Linked DNA regions of Homo sapiens: region 2 is linked to region 1. The links come from fine-mapping of genetic effects on gene expression. Tissue or cell type: thyroid. Region 1 holds a variant in brackets; the other region holds the start of a gene. All regions are shown on one strand. Distances are from middle to middle.

The links. PIP is the estimated chance that this variant, and not a neighbour inherited with it, causes the effect.
Region 2: it holds the start of SFTA3, and the variant in region 1 is fine-mapped to the expression of SFTA3 in thyroid (GTEx, PIP above 0.99).

The regions. Positions count from the first base shown.
Region 1 is chr14:36,475,584-36,480,951 of GRCh38, reverse strand. SFTA3 (surfactant associated 3) reads left to right here. Exons shown (of 5, transcript NR_161365.1): 3 at 3,074-3,236; 4 at 3,849-3,981. Among named protein-coding and RNA genes, the nearest start is that of NKX2-1-AS1, 41 kb to the left of the region's middle. The variant G/A (reference allele first, on the strand shown) is at 3,185.
Region 2 is chr14:36,516,430-36,521,797 of GRCh38, reverse strand. It overlaps SFTA3 (surfactant associated 3), which reads left to right and starts at 2,242. Exons shown (of 5, transcript NR_161365.1): 1 at 2,242-2,330. NKX2-1 (NK2 homeobox 1) reads left to right here and starts at 1,566. Exons shown (of 3, transcript NM_001079668.3): 1 at 1,566-1,745; 2 at 2,428-2,813; 3 at 3,778-5,368. The coding sequence starts at 1,669. The coding sequence ends at 4,520. NKX2-1-AS1 (NKX2-1 antisense RNA 1) reads right to left here and starts at 2,520. Exons shown (of 2, transcript NR_103710.1): 1 at 2,119-2,520; 2 at 1-154. RefSeq lists enhancers at 1-150, 151-1,150, 1,151-2,150, 3,309-4,307.

The sequences.
Region 1 (5,368 bases):
TTTTTAATGATTTCTTTCCATTTACAACTTTATATCCATTAAAGCAACTTTTAGAAGCTTACATTTATGTCTTTGTACATTATAAAAACAACTTTCTGTACTTATATTTTATTAATTTACATAAGATTTCCTCAAATAACATAGCTATAACAATAAGTAAAATTGTTATAAAAGAACTTAGACCAAACACATCTGACACTTGGTAGGCATACAATGCAATTCAACTGGTGAGAGCAGTAGTAAGATGAGTGTATAGACAGCAGCTTATCAGCTTTGAGCATTGGGGAGGGCAGGGCTGTAGTCAGTGTGCTTTACAAAGGAAATTATGTGTATCAAGTAAGCTGGTTAAATAGAGGCCACTTTAAGAGCATTTGTAATACAGTGGATGCCCAGAAGAAGGATACTTAACCCGGACTGGGGGTTGAGGAATGTCTTTCCAGGGGAGGTGACATAAGTTGAGATCTAAAGATGTGGAAGGACTTAGCCAGAAGAAAAGTCAGAAGATCTGTTTCAAGCACTGGAAACAACCAGAGAGAGAAGACAGCACCTACATTGGAGGAACAGCAAGAAGTATTGCTGGAGTGTGGCGTGCAGAAGGGGATGTGTTGAAGATGAAACTTGGAGAGAATCATGTTAACCATGTTAAGAAGTTTAGACTTTATTTTAGGGACAGTGGAAAGCCACGGAAAATTTTTAAGTAGAGGACTGACATAATCAGACTTGTGTTTTAGAAAGATCCCCTGGACTGCATTCCAGGGACCAGAATAGAGATGGTGGTAGGTCAGTGGAGGGGTGAAGGGTAGGAAGTCCAGTGATGGGGCTACCAAGGGAGTGGTGATATGAGCCTAGTACTATAGGGATGGAGAAGAGTACACCTCAGCTCTGAGAGGCAGGTAGGGGGTAGACTGTACAGGGGTTTAGTGGCCAAGTGTATTTGGGGGTGAAGGAAAGAAGGAAGACCAGCTTTGGTGATGGTGTCATTTGCTGAAATAGAGAACATGGAACAAGAGTAGCTTTGGAAAGAAGATGAGGTAAACTTAGAATATATTGAATTTGAGGTCTAATGAAGCTGTGGGATGTCCATTAAGTAGCTAGACATGTAACTCTAAAACTGGATCTCAGAGGTTAAAGTGGCCAAAAAGTCATATAATGTAAGGAATGGAAAGTATCCAATGAGTTTTATCAATGAGGAGGCTCCTGGTAACATTGGTGAAGGCAGCTTTAGAAAGCAGGTAGGCACATGAGCCCAATGGTAATGGGTTGAGGAGCCTGTGGGCATGAGGAAATGACCATGGGTACTTAATCATTTAGAGAATTTGGGCTTTGAAGGGGAGGACAGAGTAGGGTAATTTCCAGAGTAGCTGAAAGAGAAGTAGGGGATGAAGAACATATTTAAGCATTACTAAGATGAGTCAGTAGAAAGGTAAAGACTGCAAATGTAAGGGAGGAAATAATGAGGGGGTTAAATGCAGAAACCCACACTTAGTATAGAACGCTGTTGTGAGGGGATAAGTGAGTAAGCCCATGTAAAGCATTATGCTCTGCCAGGCACGGTGGCCCACGTCTGTAATCCCAACACTTTGGGAGGCCGAGGTGGGAGGATTGCTTGTGCTCAGGAGTTCAAGACCAGCCTGGGCAACATGGCAAAACCCTGTCTCTGCAAAAAATACTAAAATTAGCTGGCACGGTGGTTCACGCCTGTAGTCACAGCTACTTGGAAGGCTGAGACATGGGAATCACTTGAGCCCAGGAGGTTGAGGCTGCAGTGAGTGGTGACTGTGCCATTGTTAGTTCCTTTCATTCTCTATGCACTGCCCATCCCGTATTTTGTTTCATCTGTGCCCTGATATAATTACTTTGGCCTGTGCCTTTTTGGCTGCATACCTGTGGTTTTAGATAGTTACTCATGTAATTCTGGATGGGCATCTAGGTTTAGAAACTAGCAGACTGGTTTAATGGCTTGCCTATCCCCTCTTCCCATATATGGCCTCAGCAAATCCCATTTCTCAAATGTGTACTCACAGTTTCACTGTCATGTTTAGCTGCTCAGCAGAGGTGATGGGCTCCTAACCACACCTGAGTCATCTCATGTACTCATTCAGACTTCAAAGTATCTTAGCTTTCCATTCTTTCAACTAAGCCAAGATGGGAGGTTTCTGTTCATTGTGGAAAGAGGCTCTTTTCTCCTTGTAGCCTTACTCCAATGTTTATCTTTAATTATTAACAAGAATTATTAAATGCTTATTTCATTGCTTGCACAGAGTATTCAAAAAACTGAATTTTCCTTTCCTTAGTTCTGCTTGACACATTTCATTTCCTCATTGCTCACCTCTTAGCCATTTTTCTGCCATACAGGCCCTCCTCCTCATGCCCTCTTTTTTTTTTTTAGCATTTCGATACGTTTCTTTCCAATTATTTCTATACTTTGGAAAAATATAATTGAAAAAAATACTGCATGTTTTTTTTTCACTTGCTATTTTAACATAATTATTTTCCTGTTAAAATTATTAACTATAATTTTGATAACTGCTAGATATTTTATCTTACAGCTGTACTAAGCTTCATCTGGCCATTTTCCTATAATTAAGCATCTAGGTGCTCATGTGTTTACACATATATCTTTGTTCACATTGTTTATTATTTCCCTACCTAAGGTTTCTAGAAGTGGGATTACAATGGTAAGCATTTTAAGAGGAATACAAAAGCTAGTTTCACATTAAGAACTAGAAGTGACACTGCTGTTTTCTCACCAGCAGAATACTAACTTTTCAAGTCCCATTCATATTACGACAAAAAAGAATGGCTTCACAAATCTCATTCATTTTATAAGTAGCATCATCTTCATCTTAAAAATATAAGTCATCTAATTGTTTACAGTGTTACACACTGTTCAAAGAACCACATAGCTCTGATTCCTTCCTTCCAAAAATTTACATTCCAAGGAAGATATACTGATGTGAAGACTCACCAAATGCAGACAAGAACTATTAAAAGTACCCCATGGATGGACCTCCAAATGAGTTTAGGGTAATTGCGCTTAAAATATTAGGACCAAAGTACATTTATTTTATAGATGGAGGAGGGGAGGAGACGAGTGGGGACCAGCTTGACATCCAGTCTTCACCTGGACATATGGAAAGAACAAATGTGCGATCTGCTCGTTCCCTCTGAAGGTCTCTGTTAC[G/A]TATTTCCTCCTCTCCTCCAGAGCATAATAACCAATGACTGCTCTCAGAAAGGTACTGTGACCACCACTTGCTTGGCTCTCCAACTTCCTCCCCCATTTCCCTCTTGACTCCTGTTTGCCATAACACCTTCTGTCCCCTAGCCTTGCCTCAGGTCCCCGACGAATCCTGCCCTTAATCTGTGGGGGTGGTAGGTGGCACTGGTTTGAAGAGCTTACTGGATCTCCCTCAGTGAGTCAGCCTGGAGTTGTGTTTGAAAACCACAGGCCCTGACTGTGGCTGTCAGACCTCCCAGACACCACCTGCTGCTGCCTATCATCATCTTCAGGTGCTGGGCTCCCCTGTGGGCCTCGTCTGCCCGCCCTCTGCTGCAGCTGTCCCATGGGCGCCCGCCCTCTCTGACACCACAAGAGAGCCCATCTAGATTCCAGGAAAAAACTCATCTTTATTTGCCTTCTTCCCACTGAAGGTAAAAGCAACATTAATAACCACAACAAATACTTAGTGAGTGCTTACTATTATTCATTTAATTGTTGGCCCTTCCATCCCTGGCCATGATGAGAGACATGCCATAGCTTACTCCTAAAGAGACCTGAGGACACACGTGCACAAACATATTGGGCATATCATCAATGGCATCAAAACTGATTTTCCCTGTCTACCCAGAACAGGCCTGAGGGAGAGGGAAAAGCGGATACCCACCTGTGTCGCTGTTTGCGTGCCAAGTCCAGGAACAGTCCATACAGCCCTGCTGCATCCCACGACGCTGTCACAAAGCAGGAGTTCATCCGAGGCCAAGGTGTTGTCATGAGAATATTCGTTAAAGTAGGGACGCTGACTTTGTTCTTGGGCAGATTCTCTTCCTGTGGAGTATCCAGCCTGTTTGCCTAGTTTTCCTGTTCTTCTGGGGTCTGATCTCTATCTGTTTTACTGCAGTCCAGTTACCAAAGTGGTATAAGTAAAATTGAAAGAATTCTAAATACCTTTTCCCCCCACGTTAGCTGCCTCACGTTAATGTGGTCTTACGGTCTGCAAATAAGTGTTTTGATGATTTGGCGACTGCAGTTACCCATACTAGCTCTCCTACCACTCACTACTGACAGTTAATTATTATCGAATATCCACCCACCCAGGGTGAGTTATAAGTTATACCAGGTGTTTTGGTTAATAATACTAATGCAATTAATTTACTGTTTACTCTCTCATCTTAAAGTAATCAGCTGGTAAAATAAGATTGATTGGGTTGGCCAGGTGCGGTGGCTCACGCCTGTAATCCCAGCACTTTGGGAGGCTGAGGTGGGCGGATCACGATATCAGGAGATCGAGACCATCCTGGCTAACACAGTGAAACCCTGTCTCTACTAAAAATCCAAAAAAAAAAAAAAAAAAAAAAAAAATTAGCCAGGCATGGTGGCGGGTGCCTGTAGTCCCAGCTACTCAGGAAGCTGAGGCAGGAGAATGGCATGAACCCGGGAGGTGGAGCTTGCAATGAGTCGAGATCGCGTCACTGCACTCTAGCCTGGGTAACAGACCAAGACTCTGTCTCAATAAAAAAAAAAAAAAAAAAAAAAAAAAAAAAAAAGATGGATTAAATTGGTACTTAAATTTTTTTTCTTTGCGAGGCTTTTCCCTTATTCATATTAAATTTAAACTGTTTTTCAAATTTATTTTACTATTCATATTTCCTGTGCATGAATCATATAATCATGTCCTTTGCCCATTTATCCATTGGGAATATTATTAGTGTTCACATGCATGTTTGAATAAATTTTCATATACTTGGTGCTGATAATTCTATTTTTCATGTGTGTTGATTTTTTTGGTTTTTATTGCTAGTTATTTCTATTACTTACAAGTTAAAAATTTATGTAATTATATTTGACCATTTTATTTCATTTCTAATTTCTCCATTTGCTCCAATTGTAAGAAAATTATCACTTTAAAGTGAGACTAAAAGCCCTATATATTCTTTTAGGTCTCTATTTCCCACCATCCCTGAGATTTTACTCTGACATTCTCTGGGCCTTACAGCCCAGGCCCTATAATTATTCAACACATTATTTTCACAAAGGTTAGATGCTTGCATTATGACTTCAATTGAGCAGTTACCTTAGAGTCTACTACCTACCTATTTATCCTGTATTTACAACTATTTCCCATGTTTTCTGTTGTCCAAGGGGCTTACA
Region 2 (5,368 bases), 41 kb before region 1:
AAGGAGCCGGGCTTCGCTCTGGTCTTTCGCAACACCAGCGGCGAGCGCGTCTCCCTGCGCAAACGTAGGGTGGCCTCCCCAGCTCTGCCGTGGGGACCGCACAAAAACGCGGGCGCAGGTGGGAGGGCGGAGGGTGTCCTGAGCTTTCTTTACCCTGGTAAAGAAGGTAGGCGGTGAGAAAAGCGAATGTTATTATAGAAGTTGGCTTTGTATTGAGGGAGTAAGAGCTCTCTTCAAGGAGAGGGCTGAAATCTTTAAAAATAAATAAAACTTTCTCTACTGTAATTGCTATTAATAAAAAAAGGGAGCCCGGATGAATTAAGTAGCTCAAAACTGCCTGTTCGTCATGATCAGGAGCTCCTTCTCTACAAGGAGGGGAAAGAAAATGTGAAAACAAAAACTAAATTCAAGAAGCTCCTTGACCAGCGCGGGTGTCTTGGAGGCACCTGCCGGGGCCGGCCGGGGAGCGCTCCGCCCTCCCAGCCCCTGGCGCGCAGAGGAGACTAAAACAGCTAAGGAGAAAGCAAAACAAAAACAATGATAAAAACGTTTAAAATCCAAGGACAAAAACCGGAGTCGGTCTCAAAATCCGCGCCGTTCAGTGCTCCACTCGGTAGTCGACTCGGCTGCAGGCCCCGGCCTGGCCGGAGCAACGCGGGGGACACCCCCGATTCCGCTGGGGAGCGCAGCCCACAGCTCCCCCTCGCCAGGCGCCCAAGGACCCTCAAGGCGCGGGGCCCACACTTGAAGCCTGGGAACGCGCAGACAGGAAACCCTCTTCCTCCTAAGCAGTTTCTTGCTCGTCGGATGAGAGGCGCCCAATTGAAGCAGAATGATCCTCATCTACTAATATCCAGCGTGGCCACAAAGCGACTGGCCATTTACGCCACCACTTTAAACAAAGATATTTGGTTATTCCCGGGAAGCAAGAGCACTTTTGCATGGCTGAGCTGCGGGCGGAGGCGAGCCTCGGCCCAGCCTCCCGCCCGCTGAGCTGCCCGCACCTCGGCATTCGCCCCCTCCTGGCCAGCGCTCCAGCCGCCGGGGTTCAGGCTCAGTTCCGCCCGGCAACAGACAGACGGGCACTCACGCCGCTCCCTGCTCGCGCGCTCCCTGAAGCATCAGAGGGGAAAACAGCGTGGCTCTGGGCTCGGGTGCTGGGGCTGTGATGTCCTCGGAAAGTCAGCTCCAGCCCCAGATCCCCGCGTGTCTGGGAGATGGGCGAGGGTCAGGGACACCAGGTTTGTTCGAGGTGGGGCAACTTCAGTGACGGACCCTCCCGTGAGACCCCTTCCCATCCTCCCAGCTCTGGGGGCCAGTGCTGTGTTTGCTCGGCCGGGGGTGGGGGGGGGGGGGGAAGACCTTGGGGGAGGCGTGTTAGCGGGGGTGGCCCACTGAAAAACCCCTGAGCTGCGGGGGCGGGTTGTGGCTCGGGGATCCGGGACAGCCTCCGGGAGGCAGTCGATCCCCTACTCAGCGCCCCCTCCGCCCGCTCGGATTCTCTCCGGTAGGGGGAAAGGGGGCGGGGAGCAGAGGTGTCCCTCTGACGGCGGCAGAAGAGAGGCAGACAGACTGACAGACACGTAGACCAACAGTGCGGCCCCAGGGTTCGTCCCCAGACTCGCTCGCTCATTTGTTGGCGACTGGGGCTCAGCGCAGCGAAGCCCGATGTGGTCCGGAGGCAGTGGGAAGGCGCGGGGCTGGGAGGCCGCGGCGGGAGGGAGGAGCAGCCCCGGCAGGCTCAGGTGAAACCCCCACCCTGTCCCTCAGCCCCCTCCTCCTAAAGACCTGTCCGTGCCCGGGGAACCCCGACCGAATTGGAAAGTGGTTCCACTTTGTAACTCCGCAAGTTGGTTGCAAAGCAGCATTCACCTTCCTTCCTCTCAACCATCTCTCCTCCTCTGTTACTCCCCCACCCCACCTCCTGCCCTCCCCGCTCTCGGTTCCCTCCTCCTTCCCCTCCCCTCCACCTCCTCCCCGCGCTCCGCTGGTACCCCACAAAAAATGGGGGTGGGGGTGTCCAAGGGAGGGGGGAAATGCTTTGGGTCTCGTCTCTGCCTCTCTCTCTCTCTCTTTGAGACCTAAAAATCCTGACAAGTGAAACTTAAAGGTGTTTACCTTGTCATCAGCATGTAAGCTAATTATCTCGGGCAAGATGTAGGCTTCTATTGTCTTGTTGCTTTAGCGCTTACGCCCCGCCTCTGGTGGCTGCCTAAAACCTGGCGCCGGGCTAAAACAAACGCGAGGCAGCCCCCGAGCCTCCACTCAAGCCAATTAAGGAGGACTCGGTCCACTCCGTTACGTGTACATCCAACAAGATCGGCGTTAAGGTAACACCAGAATATTTGGCAAAGGGAGAAAAAAAAAGCAGCGAGGCTTCGCCTTCCCCCTCTCCCTTTTTTTTCCTCCTCTTCCTTCCTCCTCCAGCCGCCGCCGAATCATGTCGATGAGTCCAAAGCACACGACTCCGTTCTCAGTGTCTGACATCTTGAGTCCCCTGGAGGAAAGCTACAAGAAAGTGGGCATGGAGGGCGGCGGCCTCGGGGCTCCGCTGGCGGCGTACAGGCAGGGCCAGGCGGCACCGCCAACAGCGGCCATGCAGCAGCACGCCGTGGGGCACCACGGCGCCGTCACCGCCGCCTACCACATGACGGCGGCGGGGGTGCCCCAGCTCTCGCACTCCGCCGTGGGGGGCTACTGCAACGGCAACCTGGGCAACATGAGCGAGCTGCCGCCGTACCAGGACACCATGAGGAACAGCGCCTCTGGCCCCGGATGGTACGGCGCCAACCCAGACCCGCGCTTCCCCGCCAGTAAGTGAGGCCGCCCCACTGCGGGGCCGCGGGCTGAGCTCAGGAGGTGCGGCGAGAGCCGTCCAGAAGGCGCGGCGCCGGCAGGCTGCGCGCTGGGCATCAGGGAGGGCGGCCCGGCAGCGGCGCCAGGGACTTGGGTGCGGGAGCTGGGGATGCTTCCCCCTGCTCGGCTGGGGGTCCAAGAACAGGCACTTGGTAGCGCTGGGGTCCTGCGGTCAGATGCGGGTACTCGGCGTCTCCTAGGCGCGGTGGACTGGCAGCTCTGCTCGGCGCAGAAGACCTCGGGGAGCCAAGGGAAGCGACCCCGAGCTCAAGGAGCAGGGGCGAGCAGAGCGCGGAGAGGCTAGACCGGGCCAGGAGGGAGGCTGCCCTGTTGGGAGGCACTCGAGCGCCCGGCCCGGCCCTCTCTCCAGCGGAGTCTGGGCAGGTGGGAGGACTCGCAGTTCCAGAGGGGACTCTAAGGGTCCGAGCAGGTGCCCTCACTGGGGCCTGACAGGAGAGAAGCCAAGAGGCAAAGCGTCTGGGGGCTCCAGCTTTTGGAAGTCAACACCCCCTCTCCTAACCTCTCCAAACTGGGGTCTACCGTAGGACCCCAGCTCCCGGCCTGAGCCCAGTTCGCCGCCTGTGGCCAGCTAATCCTAATGCTCTGACCCGGGCTGGGCACGAAAGGAGCAGAAGCGGCCTTTCCCCCACTGCGTCTTTTGGTTCGAAAGAGGGAACTGAGACTGAGGGAGGGCAGCCAGGGTTGGGGCTGTGAGCGCTCCAGTACAGCCCCCTCGACGGTACGGCCTGGGGCAGGCGCTGGCAGTTCCCCGCGGATGGGCCTCTTGGGCCCCAGCGCTAGGCTGCCTGGGTCAGGAGGGCGCCGTCGGTTGGGGCGGGCCGGGCGGGCCAATGGCGCGGAAAACAGGGGTGGCCTGGCTCGGCCTGGCCCCGGCCGACGCTGTGCGTTTGTCGCTTACAGTCTCCCGCTTCATGGGCCCGGCGAGCGGCATGAACATGAGCGGCATGGGCGGCCTGGGCTCGCTGGGGGACGTGAGCAAGAACATGGCCCCGCTGCCAAGCGCGCCGCGCAGGAAGCGCCGGGTGCTCTTCTCGCAGGCGCAGGTGTACGAGCTGGAGCGACGCTTCAAGCAACAGAAGTACCTGTCGGCGCCGGAGCGCGAGCACCTGGCCAGCATGATCCACCTGACGCCCACGCAGGTCAAGATCTGGTTCCAGAACCACCGCTACAAAATGAAGCGCCAGGCCAAGGACAAGGCGGCGCAGCAGCAACTGCAGCAGGACAGCGGCGGCGGCGGGGGCGGCGGGGGCACCGGGTGCCCGCAGCAGCAACAGGCTCAGCAGCAGTCGCCGCGACGCGTGGCGGTGCCGGTCCTGGTGAAAGACGGCAAACCGTGCCAGGCGGGTGCCCCCGCGCCGGGCGCCGCCAGCCTACAAGGCCACGCGCAGCAGCAGGCGCAGCACCAGGCGCAGGCCGCGCAGGCGGCGGCAGCGGCCATCTCCGTGGGCAGCGGTGGCGCCGGCCTTGGCGCACACCCGGGCCACCAGCCAGGCAGCGCAGGCCAGTCTCCGGACCTGGCGCACCACGCCGCCAGCCCCGCGGCGCTGCAGGGCCAGGTATCCAGCCTGTCCCACCTGAACTCCTCGGGCTCGGACTACGGCACCATGTCCTGCTCCACCTTGCTATACGGTCGGACCTGGTGAGAGGACGCCGGGCCGGCCCTAGCCCAGCGCTCTGCCTCACCGCTTCCCTCCTGCCCGCCACACAGACCACCATCCACCGCTGCTCCACGCGCTTCGACTTTTCTTAACAACCTGGCCGCGTTTAGACCAAGGAACAAAAAAACCACAAAGGCCAAACTGCTGGACGTCTTTCTTTTTTTCCCCCCCTAAAATTTGTGGGTTTTTTTTTTTAAAAAAAGAAAATGAAAAACAACCAAGCGCATCCAATCTCAAGGAATCTTTAAGCAGAGAAGGGCATAAAACAGCTTTGGGGTGTCTTTTTTTGGTGATTCAAATGGGTTTTCCACGCTAGGGCGGGGCACAGATTGGAGAGGGCTCTGTGCTGACATGGCTCTGGACTCTAAAGACCAAACTTCACTCTGGGCACACTCTGCCAGCAAAGAGGACTCGCTTGTAAATACCAGGATTTTTTTTTTTTTTTGAAGGGAGGACGGGAGCTGGGGAGAGGAAAGAGTCTTCAACATAACCCACTTGTCACTGACACAAAGGAAGTGCCCCCTCCCCGGCACCCTCTGGCCGCCTAGGCTCAGCGGCGACCGCCCTCCGCGAAAATAGTTTGTTTAATGTGAACTTGTAGCTGTAAAACGCTGTCAAAAGTTGGACTAAATGCCTAGTTTTTAGTAATCTGTACATTTTGTTGTAAAAAGAAAAACCACTCCCAGTCCCCAGCCCTTCACATTTTTTATGGGCATTGACAAATCTGTGTATATTATTTGGCAGTTTGGTATTTGCGGCGTCAGTCTTTTTCTGTTGTAACTTATGTAGATATTTGGCTTAAATATAGTTCCTAAGAAGCTTCTAATAAATTA